Linked DNA regions of Homo sapiens: regions 1, 2 and 4 are each linked to region 3. Evidence: fine-mapped expression QTL. A gene starts in region 3. Each other region holds a variant in brackets. All regions are shown on one strand. Distances are from middle to middle. Region 1 overlaps PPP6R2 (protein phosphatase 6 regulatory subunit 2). Region 2 overlaps PLXNB2 (plexin B2). Region 3 holds the start of DENND6B (DENN domain containing 6B). Region 4 overlaps PLXNB2 (plexin B2).

Region 1 (5,142 bases), 44 kb before region 3:
CTGGCGGGTGCCTGTAGTCCCAGCTACTCGGGAGGCTGAGGCAGGAGAATGGCATGAACCCAGGAGGTGGAGCTTGCAGTGAGCCGAGATCGCGCCACTGCACTCCAGCCTGGGCGACTGAGCAAGACTCTGTCTCAAAAAAAAAAAAAAAAAAAGAAAGAAATTATATTTATTCTAATTTATCCAGCATCTCACTGAACTGCAATGGAAGAGCCTCGTAAGAGTATCTTATATTGCTGGAAGCAGAGGTCCTTCCCTCCCCTTTTCATTTTCTGCGTAACTGTGTGGTTTGAATGGCAACTGTGACAGTGTATATGCTGTATCTCACATGTTCCCTGCAAGTGAGACGGAACATATACCTCATTAAATATGTGCAAAACTGTTCCTGTTTTGTCAGAATTAAACTTTGGACAGGGCGCGGTGGCTCACGCCTGCTATCCCAGCACTTTGGGAGGCCGAGGCGGGCGGATCACAAGGTCAGGAGTTCGAGACCACCCTGGTCAATATGGTGAAACCCCGTCTCTACTACAAATACAAAAATTAGCCAGGTGTGGTGGTGCGTGCCTGTAGTCCCAGCTACTTGGGAGGCTGAGGAAGAAGAATCGCTTGATCCCGGGAGGTGGAGGTTGCAGTGAGCCGAGATCACACCACTGCACTCCAGCCTGGGCAACAGAGCAAGACTCCGTCTCAAAAAAAAAAGAAGAATTAAACTTGGGCTTGGAAAGACCAAGCAACTTGCTCAAAAACATGCAGAGCATCTCAAAACCAGACACAGGAGGATCAAAAACCACCAAAAGACAACAGACCATGAGCACATCTGTTTTTTTGTTTTGTTTTGTTTTGTTTTGAAACAGAGTCTTGCTCTGTCGCCCAGACTGGAGTACAGTGACACGATCTCGGCTCACTGCAACCTCCATCTCCTGGATTCAAGCGATTCTCCTGCCTCAGCCTCCTGAGTAGCTGGGATTACAGGTACACACCACTATGCCCAGCTAATTTTTGTATTTTCAGTAGAGACGGGTTTCATCATGTTGGTCAGGCTGGTCTCGAACTCCTGATCTCATGATCCACCCACCTCGGCCTCCCAAAGTGCTGAGATTACAGGTGTGAGCCACAGTGCCCAGCCAGCATATCTTCTAAACTACGTTTTTCGCTGTGACCCATCTTTGAACTTCCACCTGTACAGAACTTTTACATAAATTACACAATAAAACAGAATCAAATTGAAAAAGAAACTTATCTTACCTTCTGTGGAAATCTCTTGTTTAAATCATGTATTCAGGCAAAACAGAAAAACATTTGTGGTTTTTTTCTTGGAGTATATGCAGCTTTAAGAAAATTTTTTTCATTCAGTGGAAGATTTATAATCTCTTTACCTGAAAAATAAGAGGAAAAATCTTGCTTTAAGTTCTTCCTCGGTAAAGTTAACTTATCAAAATGGCAGACAACAGGAAAAGGAGGCAGGGTGCGGTGGCTCACACCTTTAATCCCCACAGAATGGGAGGCCAAGGCGGCAGATCACTTGAGTCCAAGAGTTTAAGACTAGCTTGGGTGACATGGAAAAACCTCATTTCTACCAAAAAATACAAAAATTAGCCGGGTGTGGTGGCGCATGCCTGTAGTCCCAGCTACTCGGGAGGCTGAGGCGGGATCACTGGAGCCTGGGAGGCAGAGGTTGCAGTGAGCTGAGATCATGCCACTGCACTCCAGCCTGGGTGACCAGAGACTGACCCCATCTCAAAAAAAAGCAATTACAAAATTTTAAAAATAAAGCAATGGAACAGCATTTATTATCTGTCCCTTAAATATAAAATTTGTCTTTGATTTCATAATTCAACTAGCAAACATGACAGTTAAAATGATATTTTAAGATAGTTTTCTTTTTTTTTTCTTTTTTAAAGAGATGGGGTCTCACTATGCTGCCCAGGGTGGAGAGCAGTAGCTATTCACAGCTCCAGTCCCACTACTAACCAGCATGGGAGTTTCTGATGTGCTCCATTTCCAACCTCAGCTGGTTCACACCTCCTTAGGCAACCTGGCAGTCTTCCTTTTCTGGGAGGTCACCATACTGATGCCGAACTTAGTGCAGACACCCAGTTCACACAGCACATTACAGCCCTCAAGTGATCCTCCTGCCACAGCCTGCTGAGTAGCAGGAATTACAAGCACAAACCACTGTGCCTGGCTATATTACAACTTTAAAATTCCATTTTATAATTATCCTAGTCCCAGGTGAAATAATGTATTTAATAATTTGTAGGATGGGTGGAGTATTATGTTTAATTGGCGTTGTCAGGTATGAAGTCCTTCAGAAAATAAAATTTGTTTTAAAAAAGGTCTGACGTTTAGCTCTTGAACCCACTGTCACTTAAATTTCCAATAATGATTAAAAATATTTTTAAATTAGGATTCCCAATACCCTGACCTCTACAAAGGGTTTCTTAGAAATAGGTCCTACATTTGTGGCTGGGGGCAGTGGCTCACGCCTATAATCCCAACACTTTGGGAGGCCGAGGCGGGTGGATCATGAGGTCAGGAGTTCAAGATTAGCCTGGCCAACATGGTGAAACCCCGTCTCTACTAAAAATACAAAAACTAGCGAGGCACAATGGCAGGCGCCTGTAATCCCAGCTACTCGGGAGGCTGAGGCAGGAGAATCACTTGAACCCGGGAGGCAGAGGTTGCAGTGAGCCGAGATCACGCCACTGCACTCCAGCCTGGGCAACAGAGTGAGACTCCGTCTCAAAAAAATGAAAAGAAAAAAAGAAATAGGTCCTACTTTTAAACTTTTTTCTTTAAAACATAGCGTGGCCAGGCGTGGTGGCTCA[C/T]GCCTGTAATCCCAGCACTTTGGGAGGCCAAGGCGGGTGGATCACGAGGTCAGGCATTCGAGACCAGTCTGGCCAACATAGTGAAACCCCATCTCTACTAAAAACACAAAAAATTAGCTGGGCGTGGTGGCAGGCGCCTGTAATCCCATCTCCTCGGGAGGCTGAGGCAGGAGAATTGCTTGAACCTGGGAGGCAGAGGTTGCAGTGAGCCGAGATCGCGCCATTGCACTCCAGCCCTGGTGACAGTGCAAGACTCCATCTCAAAAACAAACAAACAAGACGTGGCACATAGTTCTGTGCACTGTTAGTATTTGGAAAGCATCTTGAAAGATCAATGGAAAGCTAAAACATTCTAAATTTAACATGAATACACTTACTTTTGATTCAGAAAATAAAATCAGATCTTTCAAAATAAAAAAAAAGTGTCGATCACTGTCGAAGTTAGGTGATGGGTACATAGATGTTAATTATGTTTTCTCTACTTTTGCATATTTTTACATTTTATATACAAATCAAAAAGGTGGGATGTGGTGGCTCACATCTGTAATCCCAGCACTTTGGGAAGCCAAGGCAGGAGGATCACTTAAGTGCTGGAGTTTAAGACCAGCCTGAGCAACACAGCGAGACCTTGCCTCTACTTAAAAAAAAAAAAAAAAAAAAAATTACTTAGCTGGGTGTGGTGGCACACACCTGTGGTCCCAGATACTTGGGAGGCTGAGTGGGAGGACTGCTTGAGCACAGGAGTTCGAGGCTGCAGTGAAAGGTCAGGCGCGGTGGCTCACACCTGTAATCCCAGCACTTTGGGAGGCCGAGGTGGGTGATCACTTGAGGTCAGGAGTTCAAGACCAGCCTGGCCAACATGGTGAAACCCTGCCTCTACTAAAAACACAAAAAATTAGCCGGGCGTACGCCTCTAATCCCAGATACTCAGGAGGCTGAGGCAAGAGAATTGCTTGAACCCTGGAGGCAGAGGTTGCAGTGAGCCACTCCAGCCTGGGCAACAGAGTGAGACTCTGTCTCAAAAAATAAAATAAAATAAAAGGCTGCAGTGAGCCACAATCACACTACTGTACTGCAGCTTGGGTAACAGAGTGAGACCCCATCTCTAAAAAAATAAAAAATAAAAATCAAACAAAAAAGATACTCAAAGTGGTGCCAGTAGCCCAGGGATAAGTCAGTGTTACCACCTTCTAAAACAGGTAATACTTTTTATACCTAACACTTCATGATTAAAATTAAGCTAAATAACTCAAAATAGGCTTTCAGCCCACTTTTCTAAAACTTTATACAGTTTTCAAAATAAAGAAATGTGTTTTCTTTTTTTTTTTTTAGATGGAATTTCACTCTTGTTGCCCAGGCTGGAGTGCAATGGCGTGATCTCGGCTCACCACAACCTCCGCCTCCTAGGTTCAAGCGATTCTCCTGCCTCAGCCTCCCAAGTAGCTGGGATTGCAGGCACGCACCACCACACCCAGCTAATTTTGTATTTTTAGTAGAGACAGGGTTTCTCCATGTTGGTCAGGCTGGTCGTGAACTCCCAACCTCAGCTGATCCGCCCACCTCGGCCTCCCAAAGTGCTGGGATTACAGGCGTGAGCCACTGCACCCGGCCAAGAAATGTTTTTGATCTTGGGCCTGTTTATTCTAATCTTGAGTCAATGATTTTGTAGCATGCATCTTCTTAACAAATTCTACTCAGTGTGAGCTGGAGGAAGAATGTGTGTGTCCCTAAACAGCACCAGCATTAGCCAGGTGTGGTGGTGCACGCCTGCAGTCCCAGCTACTCAGGATTGAAGTGGGAGGATCCCTTCGGCCTAAGTGTGCATGGTTGTGGTGAGCTATGATCACACCACTGCACTCCAGCCTGGGTGACAAAGTGAGACCTTGTATTGTGGGCGGCAAGCTACCCAGGTGCCAAGGCAAGAGACTGAGGGCACGAGCTGTTCCAGTATAATAAATAAAATATATAAAGTAAGAATAGTTATACTAGAAATAGATTATAGATATATGTGAATATTATTAATCATTAGTTTGTAGCATTACTCTTTATTCCAATATTATAATAATCTTTGTTCTACAATTATAACCTAGGAAAAACCAGGCCATACAGAGATAGGAGCTGAAGGGACATGGTGAGAAGTGACCAGAAGACAAGAGTGTGAGCCTTCTGTCACGCCCAGACAGGGCCACTAAAGGACTCCTTGGTCTAGTGGTAGCGCCAGTGCCTGAGAAGGCACCCGTTACTTAGCAGACTGGGAAAGGGAGTCTGTCTCCCTTTCCTGGGCGAGCGACAGAAGACTCTGCTCCACCACCTC
Region 2 (5,142 bases), 27 kb after region 3:
GTGCTCCAGCATGGCCCCCCCCACTCCCTCTCAGCCTCAGAGATTGGCCAGGGGAGCTGAGGGGCTTGGCCTCCCCACTCCTATGTTGGCACCGAGCCTGATCTGGTGACCACCCTGAGGGACTTCAGGAGAAAAGGATGTTAGGGAGGAGGGCGTGAAGGTGGGGCGCCCCAGGCAGGCCGCCCAGGCCCAGCAAAGCTCGCTGGAGGGTCCCCCAGTTCCACATCTAGACCTGGGGCCCAGTGGCTCTCGACCAGGCCCTGTGGGGTTTGAAGTCCTCAGCTCCACCATGAGCAGAGCAAGCCTCCGCGTGGAGCAAGGGGCTGGACCTGGCCTCCAGGGGCACCCACCTCCCCACACAGCTCCAGCCACGGGCATCACCTCCCACTCACTGTCCTGCCCCCACTCTGAGATGGGCATTTCCTCACTGGGAAATCCCTGTCCCTCTGGCCTCCCAAAGCCCTGAGTGTTTGCCCCTGTGGGGCCCAGCCCACACCCTGGGCTGCCTCACCCTTGGCCTGGACCCAGGTCCTGCCCAACACCCTGTGCCTCACCAGCCCCCAGCTCATCCTGGGCAGACGCAGCCCCTCTCCCCTGCTGAGACGGCCCTGCCCCCACCCCACTTCCCCATGCCACACATGGCCCCTCCCTCGGGGCTCCAGGCAGCGCTGGGTTCTGAGAGCCCCACTGCCCCTCTTAGCCCAAGTGCCCCGGCCTGAGGCTTCTCTCCCAGGCTCTTTGTACTGGGGACGAGTTCTGGGTGTTGGGGTGAGACCCTGTTGGCAGGGCTTTTCCGGCAGCACCCAGCCATGTGTGTCTGCACATGTGTGGTCATGTGTGCAAGTGGTGTCTGGCACACAGGCTTGGCGCGGTGCCCCAAGCTAATTGTGGGGTTCAGCGGTGATGGGCGAGGCGGGGCTGGGGTGACCGCTGAGGCGCTGACAGGCTGACGGGGAGATTACAGGCCTTGCTTACTGCTCACTGGCTGGGGCCTCACCCGTCCACCCCCCAACGCCCACCCCGGGGGTGAGAAGGGGGCTGTGGGCGGGGGCTGGTCTTGAGCCAGCTGCATCCAGGCAGGACCTGGTCTCTGAGCAGCCGGCTGCTGCGGGGTTGAGCTGGAAAGGGGGAGATGCGTGGGGGCCACTCAGAGGAGAGCCTGCAGGTGGGGCTGGGCACCGGCGGGCCGGGAGGCCTCCTTTCAGGAGAGACTCCAAGTGACTGAGCCCCAGAATCCCACGAGAGTCCCTCCGTGGCCGCCTGCTGTCTGACCGCATGTCCTGTCCTGATGAGTTGGTGGTTCCTGCTGTAGCCATCGGCCTCGTGTGCCCCGAGCGCCTGGCGGTGCCCACCCCTCCCACAGGAGGTCCTCAGGAAGCACGGAGACATCGGTAGGTTCATTGCGCTGCCCAGCTTTCTGACCCGAAGGACCACGGTGTAGCAAGAGGGGGCTGCAGCTGTGCCCAGGTTGGACAGGATGGGGTCTGGGACCCCGAAAGGGGTGGTTGAGGAGAGAGGTGGTTCTGCAGGCCTGGTGCGTGTGGGGACAGGGCGCCGTAGCCAACTGGATCCCACCTTCTGTCTGAGGGCTGGGGAGGACCATCCTCCAGATGCGCCAGTGGGCCGTGGCCAGAGAGGAGGCTGAGGAGGGCCTCACAACTGTGTGTAGGATGGGAGGGCAGCCTGGGGCCCCAGTCTAGGGACGCACCATATACAGGGGCTGCACTTGGTGCAGAGGCGGAGAGGGGGCTGGGGCAGGCCCCTTGGGCATGGCCAGGTGAGCTCAGGGGGTGCCTGAGGGCCAGGGCTAGATACAGAGGCCCTGGGTACCAGGTGGCCTGGGTGTGTCAGGAGGTGTGGACCAGTGGGGGCTGTGACTAACTCGGCTGGAGCAAGTGACAGGAGGAGCTGGGGCTTCATGGGGCACCCCCAGGATCCTGGGCTGGTGACCCCATCACTGCCACCAGCCAGGGTGACTTTTCCTGCTGGGACCCAGAGCCCAGACTGCAGGGGAGGCTGGCCCTAAGTAGGAACCCCACCCTGAAACCAGGCTGGCGGGGAAGGGGTGCGACGGCCTCCACCTGGGAGGGGTCCTCAGCCGAGAGTCCAGCGGGGACCGCTGTAGACGCTGAAGCGAGGCTCAGGCCTCCACATCAGTCTGTCCCTGGAGCCCCGCCCCGCCCCGCCCCGCCCCAGCTCCTAGGTCGGGTTGTGCCGGGAGCGTTCGGCCTTTGCCTCGGGTGAGTCTGGCCTTGACCCTGGGTCCGGAGTCCTGCGGGAGGCTGCTCCGGGCAGGGTCGTGCATGATTGGCAGCTGGGCCGGGAGGGGCCGAGCCCTGAGACCGACCGGGGGCACGGGCGGAGCCACCATCGGCGGGGCGGAGCTGCTCCCCGCGCCCCTTCCACGGCTCGGAGGACTTAGGTAATGGCCGGCTGTGCGATCCGATGTGCCCGACGCCAGGTGAGCGCCCCGCGGGGACGACGTCTCCTGCGCTCGTGTGACTGTCGCCGCCGCCGTCATTGTTACTCGGGTCAGACTCCCACCCGCCCGCGCGTCCTGGGCCCCCGGCCTGGTGAGGTTTGTCCCAGAGGCGGCCACGTGCTCCCTCCAGGTGCGCGAGGCCGAGGGGCGGACGGGGCGCCGGAGTCCCCGGGAGGGCGCGGGCGGTGGCCGTGGAGCTTGGGCTCGCGGGGGGCAGTGGGCGGCGCCGAGGAGGCGCGGGCCTAGTCCC[T/C]GCGCTTCCTGGCCCCGGGCGCGCTTTGCCCCTGGCTCCCGGGCAACCGTTCTGCGCCCTCCGGGGAGTCTGGCGGTGCCGGCGCCGGGGGAGGGGCTGTGCCACCTGGGTCGGCCTGCGAGGAATAGTCCAGGGCGCTCCACACAGGCCGGGTGCCCGCCTTTGGCTCTGGCCGGGTACCGGGCTCGCAGACCCACCCAGGAGACACCGCCCCCCGCCTCCCGGGCTGAACTCTGACCCGGGTCACCGGTGGGTGGGGCTGGGTGGCGGGGCCGCCGGTCTCGCCCTCGCCGGGTCTCCCGCGCGCTCTCCACCCAGTCCCTCCCCGCGCCTACCCACGGGCGCGGCGCTGCGGGAAGGGGCGGCCGGGGTCCTTGCCGACCCCCCAGCCCCACGCCCCGCGGCACCCCCCTCGCGCTTGTTTTGAAAACAGCGGAGGCTGGGATTCGCCGGCGCGTCTGTTTTGTTTCCTCTGATGTGTTTAGCGCTCTGGGATAATTGCAGATTTGCGTGTGTCGCTAGCTTTGGCCCGGCCCCCTGGCTGCTGGCTGCGGGGCCTCCGGGGCCTCCGTGGCTTTTCTGTGACGCCTGTCGCCCCGTTCCGGGACAGCCACTCTCAGACGCGCCTTGGCCTGTGCTTGGGGCAGCCTATCGCTCACTTGGTCCGAGGCTGCTTCCCCCGCCCCCGCACCGGGCCCCCCCCCCACCCCACGCAGGGCCTGTGTCCACCCCAATCCTTTGAGCCCTGGAGGGCCGCACAGCCCTAGGACCTCTGCCTTCTCCACCGCCCATGTCCTAGGTGCTCATGCCACCCCCTCCTGCCCTCCCAGGCCTAGGCCCGAGCTCTCCTCGTTCTTCATGGCGGCTGCTGCCTGGATCCCCATCTTGGCCCCTGCCGGGCCGCTGCCCATGCACCTCCTCTGGCCCCTGCCCTCTCTGGTTCCCGTGCCAGAGCCCACAGCCTGGCCTGGCCAAGAGCAGCCCCCAAGCTGGGCCTGCCCTCCCACTGGGCCTGACTGCTTTGTGCTGGTTTGATTTTAGCATTAAGAATGGTCAGTCTGGCTGGGTGTGGTGGCTCACGCCTGTAATTCCAGCACTTTGGGAGGCCAAGGCGGGTGGATTGCCTGAGCTCAGGAGTTCGAAACCGGTCTGGGCAACACGGTGAAGCCCCATCTCTACTGAAATACAGAAAATTAGCTGGGCATAGTGGCGTGCACCTGTAGTCCCAGCTACTGGAGAGGCTGAGGCAGGATAATTGCTTCAACCTGGGAGGCAGGGGTTGCAGTGAGCCAAGATCATGCCCCTACACTCCAGCCTGGGTGACAGAGTGAGACCTGTCTCAGAAAAAAGAAAAGAATGGCCCAGTCTGTTTGCTTGAAAATACTGAAAGGCAGAGAACTCCCAATTTTAGTCCCCACTGGAACCACCCCGCAGTGCAGCCAAGACTTGGGGCGGTCTCAGAACCAAGGCTGGCAGGAGTTTGGGGGCCTGGCAGCCCCCACTCTTGGCCTCATCTGGAGTAGGGCTCTGTCCTTCCCCCTTACATGCCTCTTGTTTACCTTTACCCAGTGGGAGGGGCGGGGGCCAGACTCAGCCCGTGCAAGGGGCCTGGGGGCTGCTGGTCAGAAAAAAAAAACAAAAGGGACCTCAGGAGAGGGCCACAGGTGCCCAGCCAGCAAGCAGCTCCTGCTGCCTCCCAGGCTGTCTAGGTTGTAGAGGGGAGGCCCAGCATCCCTGTGCTGCCCTTGGCCTACATCGGAGTTCTGGTTGGGGGAGGAGACCCTTCTGCTCTGTTGGCCTGGGGGTGACCTGCGGGGACAGGTCTTCTGGGCTCGCGCCCCTGCATGTCACCACCCCTTCCCGGCTCACTGAGTTTGGACCGGCAGGTGCCCAGTGACCAGATCCAGTGTTTGGACTTGTTGGGGCAGGGCGGCGGGGCAGCCGGGGCCTGTCGGGGAAGACCATAGACCACAGAGCAAGGCCAGTCCCTCAGGGGCTGGGTTAGGGAGGGTGTCTCGGGGTCTAAAGGATGGGCAGGGGCTTTCCAGGGAGCACAGTGAACATGGACGTGGGAATGTCGTGAGGCAGCGTTCTCTGAGTGGGCACAGCTGTAAAGATTTCCACACCCACTCAACCTCAAGGCAGCCCTCTGAGGTGGGCGCCATAATGACCCCCAGGTTACATATGGGGAAACTGAGGCACAGAGCAGCTTTCTGAATGGCCCACATGAGCCAGCTAGAACGTGACAGAGCTGGGGTGTGAACTCACTGGTCTGGCTCTGGACTTCAGGCCTCGAGGTCCCTGGGTGCAGCAGCGTCAGGTGTGACCACAGCCACCTAAGGAAGAAACTCCTTTTTCTGGGGTAGCTAAGCGGGAATCTTGTGAGCAGGAGATGGAGCCTGGCTCAGTG
Region 3 (5,142 bases):
CCAGGCTGGAGTGCAGTGGTGCGATCTCAGCTCATTGCAACCTCCGCCTCCTGGGTTCAAGTGATTCTCCTGCCTCAGCCTCCCGAGTAGCTGAGACTACAGGCACCAGCCACCACACCCGGCTAATTTTCTGTACTTTTAGTAGAGATGAGGTTTCACCGTGTTAGCCAGGATGGTCTCGATCTGCTGATCTGCTCGCCTTTTCGGCCTCCCAAAGTGTTAGGATTACAGGCGTGAGCCACCGCGCCCGGCCTTCAGCCAGTCTTTAATCTGGTCTGGAATAAAGTTCTGCCTCCTACCTCAAAATCAGAGTACATCTTACAATGATGGCATGCAATAACCACAGGGGAAAAAAATGCTCAAGACCATTAGTAATCAGGGAAATGCAAATCAAAACCACAAGAATACCCAGGCACGGTGGCACATGCCTGTAGTTACAGCTACTTGGGAGGCCAATGAAGGAGGATCCCTTGAGCCCAGGAGTTCCAGGCTGCAGTGAGCTATGATGACATCACTGAACTTCAGCCTGGGTGATAGGATGAGATCTCTTCTCTATAAAATAAACAAAATTTTAAAAATCACAAGATACCACTACCCACTCATTGGCTGGCTACAATGAAGACGCTTGGCAACACCAAATGTTGGGAAGGATGTGGAGCAAAGGAAACATAAACTGTTGGTAGGAATGTTTCCATTTTCTTTTTTTATCTTTTTTTGAGACAAAGTCTCGCTCTGTCACACAGGCTGGAGTGCAGTGGCTTGATCTCGGCTCACTGCAACCTCCACCTCCCAGGTTCAAGCGATCTCATGCCTTAGCCTCCTGAGTAGCTAGGATCACAGGTGACCGCCACCATGCCTGGCTAATTTTTGTATTTTTTAGTAGAGACAGGTTTTCACCATGTCGGCCAGGTTGGTCTCAAACTCCTGACCTCAGGTGATCCACTAGCCTCAGCCTCCCAAAGTGCTGGGATTACAGGCATGAGCCACCTCGCCTGGCCTGGTAGGAATGTTTTTAAATGTATGGCTGCTTTGGGGAAAGCTAAACATATACCCAGGTTATGCCTCAGCAATTTGGTTTCTATGCACGCCCAAGAGAAATGAAAATGAGCCCAGGCAGCACGAGACCCCATCTCCACAAAAACGAACAAAAAATAAAAATAAAAAAATAATGGGGTATGGCGGCGTGTGCCTGTAGCCTCAGCTACCTAGGAGACTGAGTGGCAGGATAGCTTGAGCCAGGAGATCGAGGCTGCAGTGAGCTGCAATGGGCCACTGCACTCCATCCTGGGAGAGAGTGAGACCTTTCCTCTAAAAATAAAAATAAAAGCTATACAGTCGGGCCTGGCATAGTGGCTCACGCCTGTAATCTCAACACTTTGGGAGGCCGAGGCGGGCAGATCACCTGAGCTCAGGAGTTCGAGACCAGCCTGGCCAAAATGGTGAAACCGTTTCTACCAAAAATACAGAAATTAGCCTGGCGTGGTGGTGCACGCCTGTAATTCCAGCTACTCGGGAGGCTGAGGCAGGAGAATCGCTCGAACCCAGTAGGCAGAGGTTGCAGTGAGCCAAGACCATGCCATTGCACTCCTGCCTGGGCAACAAGAGCAACATTCTGTCTCAAAAAAAACAACAGAAACAAACAAACAAAAAACAATACGGCCATGTGCTACTCAACGGTGAAGCTATGTCCTGAGAAATGTGTCATTAGGCGATTTTGTTATGTGACAAACCTAGATGGGACAGCCTACCCCACACCTAGGCCAGATGATCCGAACAACACGTGGTAATCTTTTATTTTTTTATTTTTGAGATGGAGTCTCACTCTGTCGCCCAGGCTGGAGTGCAATGGCGACATCTCAGCTCACTGCAAGCTTCGCCTCCGGGGTTCAAACGATTCTCCTGCCTCAGCCTCCCCAATAGCTGGGGTTACGGCGCTCGCCAGCCACCACGCCCGGCTAATTTTTGTATTTTCAGTAGAGACAGGGTTTCACCAGGTTGGTCTCGATTTCCTGGATTCGTGATCCGCCACCCCACCTCGGCCTCCCAAAGCGGTGAGATTACAGGCGTGAGCCACCGCGTCTGGCCAACACGTGGTAATCTGAAGGGACCACCACAGTATATGCGGCCCGCCTTCCACGGAAACGTCATGAGGCCCACGACTCAAAGGCGTGCCTCATTAAGTTACCGACAGCCCCAAACTCGCCCTTCCACGCCGGGCCTCAAGGTGCTCTGTGGACCACAGCGGGGCCCGGGGCCCTCGCGAGGGAGGGAAGAGTTCGCTCCAGGTCCCCGCGATTCCCCCGGAAAGTGAAACTGCAGAGGTGTTGCGTGGACACCCGCGGTCAGACACGACCCCAGGCCGCGCGGGCCCCAGAGGAAGCGAGCGCGAGTCCGCGGTGGTGGCTGGGCGCTCAGTGAGGACGCCATTCCGCCACGAAAACGCCCGCGACGCCGCTGGCCCCTGCGCGGTGGGGCGAGGTAGGCTGGCCGGACCTGCGAAGCCCGACGAGCCCGGCGCCGGCTGGCTGCAGCTTGCTCTGCCTCCCTGGCCTGGCCCCGAGGCTCCCGCGAGCCGGGATCCGCGAACACCGGGGCCGAACCGACTCTCTCGGGCCTCAGACGGCGTGGACCCTGGAAGGCCCCAGTTCGGCCGCTTCCCCGGAAGTCCCCCAGTGGGCTCCGGCCGCTCTGGCCCGCGCGCGTCCGGCTCGCTGGTGCCCTGGGCGGCGCCCGGCCGCTGGCGCTTCTCGGGCGCTAGGGGGCGCGCGGCCGCGCGGGAGCCGCACTGGGCCGCGGCGGCCGCTCGACTGTTCTGAGGAGCGGCCCGGACGCGCGCCGCCCCCGCCCGCGTTTCCCCGGCAACCCGCGGCCGCCGCCATGGACGCGCTGTTGGGCACAGGGCCTCGCCGGGCTCGCGGCTGCCTGGGCGCGGCTGGACCCACGTCTTCAGGTCGCGCGGCGCGGACCCCGGCGGCGCCCTGGGCGCGCTTCTCCGCCTGGCTGGAGTGTGTGTGCGTGGTCACCTTCGACCTGGAGCTGGGCCAGGCGCTGGAGGTGAGCGGGCGCGAGCGCGGGCGCGGGCGGGTGGGCAGGGCTGCGCCTCTCGGGGCCAGTCCCGCCTCGCTTGGGGCCCTCGGCCGCCCCGCACTCTCCCTGGCCTTCGGCCGCCGCCTCCTGGAGGGGCCTCTTCTCCGGGCTCCAGAAGCGCTCCCCAGGCCGAGGAGGGAAGGCGAGCTGCTCGGAGTCGGATCTTGTCTTCACATTGGGATGGAGCATTTTGCATAACCTAAGTGGTACTCTTTCGATTTTTCCCAGTAAATGTCTCACATCTCCCCCCTCCATTCCCCACCGGAGCAGTGACACCTTCATCCCCTCAGTGGCTCCCGCCAGAGTCCCGGGCTTACCCTCCGCTCCGCATCCCATCTCTGGGCATAGGCGAGGCTGACGGCTCCTTCTGCAACAAAGGTCTCGGATCCGTTCCTTTGCTGCCATCACTGATGTCATCCCCACCCCAGCTGCACCCCAGAGTTCAACCTTTGTGGCTCTCCTGCTTAAAACCCTGCAGCGCCTCCTTGTTCACCTAGCATCAGATCCAGACCCCATGGGCCCCGTCCCTCCACCTGCGTCTTGTGGTGTTCTTGCTCGTGGGGGTCTGTTCATCGGCTGTGCCCATGGGCTTTCGATGTGGTCTTTCTGCTGCCTGCAGGCCTCCACTCACCTACCCACACAGGCAGCCTCCTTTCCTCCAGGGAGGCCCCGCAGGATGATCTTCTCTGTGTCCTGTGTAACACACACCAGGGAGCTGACCAGCACAGGGGAGGCCCACCTGCAGATGGAGGGAGGCTTCCCCGCGCTGGCGCAAGGAACCTCGTGAGGGGTAGTGAGCTCTCTATTACCGCAGGTGTCCAAGATCAGGCCAAATCATCATCATCAGGAAAGCCAGGCAGCGCGTCTCTGTGGTTGGGAGATGCTTTCTAAGGCCCTGCTGAACTCCAAGAGGCCATGAGAAGCATATAGTCTTCTAAACAGAAAAGCATTAACTCTAGCACTCTCTGGAGCCCCTCCCACCACACACGGTCCCCAGCAGGTGCACAGCCTCAAACAGCATCACTGGGTGGGGGCTGAGTACCAAGAAGTGTGGTGACCTGCCCAGGGTTGAAAACCTTTCTTAGTTCAATACTGTTGCCCAGATTGTTCCCCACAAAATCACAAAAGAAGTTAAGAGGTTCCTGGCCGGACGCGGTGACTCATGCCTGTAATCCCAGCACTTTGAGAGGCCGAGGCAGGCAGATCACAAGGTCAGCAGTTTGAGACCATCCTGGCCAACATGGTGAAACCACATCTCCACTAAAAATACAGAAATTAGCCGGGCGAGGTGGCACACTCCTGTAGTCCTAGCTACTCGGGAGACTGAGGAGGAGAATGGCTTGAACCCGGGAGGGGGAGGTTGCAGTGAGCAGAGATTGCACCATTGCGCTCCAGCTTGGGCGACAAAGTGAGACTCCATCTCAAAAAAAAAAAAAAAAAAAAAGGAGGTTCCTCTGTTCCTTAAGACATTCTCGTGTTATTTTCTAAAACCCATTCGGAAAGTTATTTCTGAGCTGTTGAAGGCTGTGTGTGCTTGGACTCCTGAGCTTTTGCTGGGGATGCTCAGCTCGGACTAGGGGCATGGTCAGCTGGCAGAGTGTTGGGGACCCAGGTCCATGAGCGAAACCCTCCATAGCAATGATCTGGGCACCTGCAGATCACTGAGTCTGTGCAGAAACCTGGCAGTGGATCCACCGGGGCCTGAGCACATGACTCTTGCCTTTCCTCCCTCACCTGGAAGTCACAGGGAAGATCGAGGTCGTTTTAGTCACTTACAGACTTAGGGAGCACCCACTGTGCAACTCAGTCACAGCTCAGCCCAGCTAAGCACTGCAAAGCCCCAGGACTGTGCTTGGTTCTGCGATATGGAAGGAAGACTCTAGTTGGGATGCATGCAGCTCAGAGGAAGGAATGGGCTTAGGTAAATAAGTCTTGGATGCTGAGAAGAGACAGGGGAGGGGGTCCTGTTTCAGGTAACCCCTCTCCCAAAATGCCAACATAAGCAAAAGGCAAGGAGCTGGTGATTCAGTTACTCATTCAGTAAATCACTTTGAA
Region 4 (5,142 bases), 40 kb after region 3:
AAGATGGAGGCCAACCGCAACGCCTGTTACACAGGCACCCGGGAGGCCCGTGACATCTTCTACAAGCCCTTCCACGGCGATATCCAGTGCGGCGGCCACGCGCCGGTATGGGCCTCAGTGTGTTCTCGCAGGGCCCGGACTGCAGGCGTCCGTTCGTGGGTTTGCGTGTCCCAGCCTGCTGGGGAGGGTGCACGTGAGCAGTGTGGCCGTGGCTCTCGCCAGCCTGGGCGCTTGCGTGGGTGGGTGCCGCATCTCTCAATGCCATTCACGCTGGCGCCAGTCCCAGGCCTGTGTCGGGCACTGGGGAACACAACAGTGAGCACGGTGGGGCTCCCTGCCATGTGGGTTCTGTTCTCGGGGACGTGTGTAGGACGTGTGCCGGAGGGAAGGGAAGGGCCTGTCCCGAGTCTTGGAGCGCGAGTGGAGAGGGCCCTTCAGGACAGGGGGTCTGCCTGCCATTGACACGCTGTGGTCCGCAGGGCTCCAGCAAGAGCTTCCCATGTGGCTCGGAGCACCTGCCCTACCCGCTGGGCAGCCGCGACGGGCTCAGAGGCACAGCCGTGCTGCAGCGTGGAGGCCTGAACCTCACGGCCGTGACGGTCGCCGCCGAGAACAACCACACTGTTGCTTTTCTGGGCACCTCTGATGGCCGGATCCTCAAGGTTTGGCCCAGGCTGGGGCGGGGAGGCTCTGGAGGGCCCGTCTGTGCACAAGGCCCGTACCCTCACCGGCCTGCCCTCGCGCACACAGGTGTACCTCACCCCAGATGGCACCTCCTCAGAGTACGACTCTATCCTTGTGGAGATAAACAAGAGAGTCAAGCGCGACCTGGTACTGTCTGGAGACCTGGGCAGCCTGTACGCCATGACCCAGGACAAGGTGAGCCAGACGCAGCCCCGGAGAGCACTCTAGGCCAAGTGTGCCCGGTCATTGCATCCCAGGCCCTTAGGACAGGCCTGGGGGCCAGAGGAGGATGGGGTGCTGCAGAGCTGGGCCCTTCTCCTTGGTCTGGATGAGGGGTGGCTGGGTGGGTCCCGGGCAGTGCCTCCATCCTGTGTCTCTCTAGCACTGCCCCGTCTCTGCCGCTCCTTCTGTTTGTCCTTTGTGGTCTCAACCATGTCTCTCCCTCTGGCCCCGCCTCTGCCCTGTCCTGATGGAAGGGACCTGGGTTGGTGTCTGAGGCGTGTTGCTGAGGGTGGATGGGAAGACGGGGTCCCTGCACAGCCCATGTGAGCTCAGTCAGTGGAGAACATGGGCCTGGGCCCCAAGCTTGTGGGGGGTTAGTGCCAGAGACCCTCAGGCCAGCCCTAGGAGCACCCCTCGGAGGGAGCCAGTGTAGAGGACAGGAGCTGCCCCGGGAGACACCATAGCCAAGACCTCCAGGCTTCCCTGGGCTCCCATCGGGATCCTGGGCCAGGCATGGCCACCCAGAGCCAGAACTGTTTAATATCAAGCCTGAGGTGTCTGAGGCTCCCGAGGCCCCGGGACAGAGCTGGGTCAAGCTGGCGGTCTGGGGACATCTGGGGTCTGCGGAAGGCCCGTGCGGCCTCTGCTGTGGTCCCACTCACGGCCCCGCTGCCCTAGGTGTTCCGGCTGCCGGTGCAGGAGTGCCTGAGCTACCCGACCTGCACCCAGTGCCGCGACTCCCAGGACCCCTACTGCGGCTGGTGCGTCGTCGAGGGACGGTGAGTGCCTGGGGTGGCTCGGGGACACGGCCTGCCTCTGGGATCCCGGAAGGTCGTGGCCTGGGTCGGGGGGCACATCGCACTGTCCTGTCCCGGGAGAACAAGACTCCACCCTGGGCTGAGGCCGCCCCCTGCGCCTGCAGATGCACCCGGAAGGCCGAGTGTCCGCGGGCCGAGGAGGCCAGCCACTGGCTGTGGAGCCGAAGCAAGTCCTGCGTGGCCGTCACCAGCGCCCAGCCACAGAACATGAGCCGGCGGGCCCAGGGGGAGGTGCGTGGTGGGTCTGGGGTGGGGGTCCTGGGCCCCAGGCCGGGCCAGGTGGGGGCTCCCCCATGCTGGGAGCTGTTGGGACAGGCAGGGGAGGGCTCCACATCTCCCCCGCCTGGGCTCTGGGCACCGAGCCTTAGGGATGGAGCCCGCCCTCCATTGGTCCCCTGGACCCCTATGACCTGGGCGGGCAGGGGTGGGGCTTGTCCATATCCAGGGTGGACTCAGGCCCTGTCCCAGGAGTTGCTGGGGTGACCACAGAGAGGCCTGTATTGGAAGACGTGGAGTCGGGTTCTGGAGGCTCCACTGGGACGTGCGCCCACACACGCAGGGAGGTCGGGTCACCGGCAGGTGGGCTGACAGGACTCGGGGTTCCCAGTGTGAGCGGCACGGCCCCTCCCTCAGGTGCAGCTGACCGTCAGCCCCCTCCCTGCCCTGAGCGAGGAGGACGAGTTGCTGTGCCTTTTTGGGGAGTCGCCGCCACACCCCGCCCGCGTGGAGGGCGAGGCCGTCATCTGCAACTCCCCAAGCAGCATCCCCGTCACACCGCCAGGCCAGGGTGAGGCCCCTTCCCGAGCCCCCGGGTGGCCCTTCTCGGTCGCACGGGGCCCTGTGCACACGGGCTCTCGCCTCTGCTGGCCCCTGGGTGCAGGCTCTGCACAGGCACACTCCGCGGCTGCTCCGGGGGCCCAGCCTGAATGAAGCCTGTGGTGGGGTTGCTGTGCCTGTTGGGGAGGTTCTGGCTTCTTGGGCTGTCCGCAGCCACGCCCCCCAGGCCTGTAGCAAAGGTGACTTGTCTTCAGCCTGCTCCCTCATCACGTCCGGAGCGGCATGTGGGTGCCAGGCGCCAGGCCCCGTCGTCTCGGCAGACGCCCCTCACCCCTTCCTGCCATGTCCAGCTTCAGAGAGCAGGGCCGTTCCCAGAGGCTGCAGGGCCTCGCATGTGGGCCAGGGCAGGCGTCGCGCCCATGTCCCCTGAGTTTTGGGGGCAGTGGGGCCACGCAGTGACGTGGGCAGGGACCTGGCAGGTCCCACTCAGACTCCAAGGAGCCGCTGCCCTCAGTGCCTGCGGGAACAGAGGGTATGAAAGCAACCTGGACCCGGGGGAGAAAGGCAAGCCCGGTGCTGCGCCCGACACCCGAACCAAGATCTGATAGCAGGTGGCAGGTCCAGCCCAGCGTGAACGGGCGTCCTGGCAGCC[C/T]CACCCGAGATCTGATAGCAGGTGGCAGGCCCCGCCCAACATGAATGCGGGGCGTCCTGGCAGGGCCCCCTGAAGACCAGGGGTCTCCACCTTGGCCCCAGGAGTCAGCCCCAGGGGAGGCCCAGCCTGGCCCTCGGCCCTGCGGCCGCCACCTTGACACCTCCCCCTCTGCTGTCTGCAGACCACGTGGCCGTGACCATCCAGCTCCTCCTTAGACGAGGCAACATCTTCCTCACGTCCTACCAGTACCCCTTCTACGACTGCCGCCAGGCCATGAGCCTGGAGGAGAACCTGCCGTGAGTGTCTTGTGCCCATCGACCCCACCCTGCCCGTCCACCCCAGCCCTGCTCACGATCCCCTCTGGATGCAGGTGCATCTCCTGCGTGAGCAACCGCTGGACCTGCCAGTGGGACCTGCGCTACCACGAGTGCCGGGAGGCTTCGCCCAACCCTGAGGACGGCATCGTCCGTGCCCACATGGTGAGGGGCCTCGGGGCCTCAGGGGACTGTTCAGGGCATGGCTGCTCCGCTGTGCCCAGGCAGCACCTGACCAGCCTTACTCTCCCAGGAGGACAGCTGTCCCCAGTTCCTGGGACCCAGCCCCCTGGTGATCCCCATGAACCACGAGACAGATGTGAACTTCCAGGGCAAGAACCTGGACACCGTGAAGGTGCGGAGGGAGGGGTGCCGGCTGGTGACAGGCAGGCTCAGGTGCGGAGGGAGGGGTGCCGGCCGGTGACAGGCAGGCTCAGGTACGGAGGGAGGGGTGCCGGCCGGTGACAGGCAGGCTCAGGTGCGGAGGGAGGGGTGCCGGCTGTGACAGGCAGGCTCAGGTGCGGAGGGAGGGGTGCCGGCCGGTGACAGGCAGGCTCAGGTGCGGAGGGAGGGGTGCCGGCTGTGACAGGCAGGCTCAGGTGCGGAGGGAGGGGTGCCGGCCGGTGACAGGCAGGCTCAGGTGCGGAGGGAGGGGTGCCGGCCGGTGACAGGCAGGCTCAGGTACGGAGGGAGGGGGTGCCGGTTGGTGACAGGCAGGCTCAGGTGCGGAGGGAGGGGGTGCCGGCCGGTGACAGGCAGGCTCAGGTGCGGAGGGAGGGGTGCCGGCCGGTGACAGGCAGGCTCAGGTGCGGAGGGAGGGGTGCCGGCCGGTGACAGGCAGGCTCAGGTGCGGAGGGAGGGGGTGCCGGTTGGTGACAGGCAGGCTCAGGTGCGGAGGGAGGGGTGCCGGCCGGTGACAGGCAGGCTCAGGTGCGGAGGGAGGGGGTGCCGGTTGGTGACAGGCAGGCTAAGGTACGGAGGGAGGGGTGCCGGCCAGTGCTGATGGGTGTGTGGGAAGCCTGAGCTCCACCCGTGCCCCCCGACTCGGGGCCCCCACATGAGGTAGAGGGCACAGGATTTATCGGGGACAGAGGCCAGGAGGCAGCACTCGGGGGCCTTTGGATGGGCCTGAAGAGAGGCAGTGGAGGAGGCAGGCGTGTGGAGATTGAGGGGCCAGTGCCACCTCCTGAGGAGGGAGCTGTGGGGGCCACGATGTCAGGTGGGCCGGGCGATGTTCTCAGGTGTGGATGAGTGGTGGAGGTGGCCGTGGGAAACCCACAGAGGACGTTCAGAGGCTTCTGCAGACACAGGTGTTTGGGCTCAGGAGTGGCCGAGGGGTCAGCTGGCATGGTAATCTGAGGGGCGGGCATGTGTGGGGTGAGGAGAGGGCTCCCACACTGTAGGCACAGAGGAGGGGCTGCAGGGGTTCTGGGAGGAGGGCCAGGGTGCCACAGCCGCCTGTCCAGGGTCCTGACGGCATGGTCTGCAGGGTTCCTCCCTGCACGTGGGCAGTGACTTGCTCAAGTTCATGGAGCCGGTGACCATGCAGGAATCTGGGACCTTCGCCTTTCGGACCCCAAAGGTACGGCTCCAGGGCAGGCCGGCTCGGCTGCTGGACCCCAGGGCCCCGGGTGGGGTGGGGGGTCACCTTCAGGACTGTGAGGGGAGGGGCAGC

The links. PIP is the estimated chance that this variant, and not a neighbour inherited with it, causes the effect.
Region 1: its variant is fine-mapped to the expression of DENND6B in whole blood (TOPMed, PIP above 0.99).
Region 2: its variant is fine-mapped to the expression of DENND6B in blood mononuclear cells (TOPMed, PIP above 0.99).
Region 4: its variant is fine-mapped to the expression of DENND6B in whole blood (TOPMed, PIP above 0.99).

The regions. Positions count from the first base shown.
Region 1 is chr22:50,368,254-50,373,395 of GRCh38, reverse strand. PPP6R2 (protein phosphatase 6 regulatory subunit 2) reads right to left here. Exons shown (of 24, transcript NM_001242898.2): 2 at 1,246-1,376. It also overlaps the pseudogene RN7SL500P. Among named protein-coding and RNA genes, the nearest start is that of PPP6R2, 27 kb to the right of the region's middle. The variant C/T (reference allele first, on the strand shown) is at 2,829.
Region 2 is chr22:50,297,596-50,302,737 of GRCh38, reverse strand. All of the region lies in intron 1 of PLXNB2 (plexin B2), which reads left to right. Among named protein-coding and RNA genes, the nearest start is that of PLXNB2, 7.5 kb to the left of the region's middle. RefSeq lists a silencer at 998-1,047 and enhancers at 1,185-1,741, 1,742-2,298. The variant T/C (reference allele first, on the strand shown) is at 2,733.
Region 3 is chr22:50,324,724-50,329,865 of GRCh38, reverse strand. DENND6B (DENN domain containing 6B) reads left to right here and starts at 2,854. Exons shown (of 20, transcript NM_001001794.4): 1 at 2,854-3,054. The coding sequence starts at 2,878. RefSeq lists a silencer at 2,466-3,105.
Region 4 is chr22:50,284,480-50,289,621 of GRCh38, reverse strand. It overlaps PLXNB2 (plexin B2), which reads left to right. Exons shown (of 37, transcript NM_012401.4): 3 at 1-105; 4 at 480-662; 5 at 751-879; 6 at 1,585-1,685; 7 at 1,829-1,955; 8 at 2,358-2,511; 9 at 3,335-3,449; 10 at 3,524-3,632; 11 at 3,721-3,822; 12 at 4,957-5,049. Among named protein-coding and RNA genes, the nearest start is that of MAPK11, 17 kb to the right of the region's middle. The variant C/T (reference allele first, on the strand shown) is at 3,154.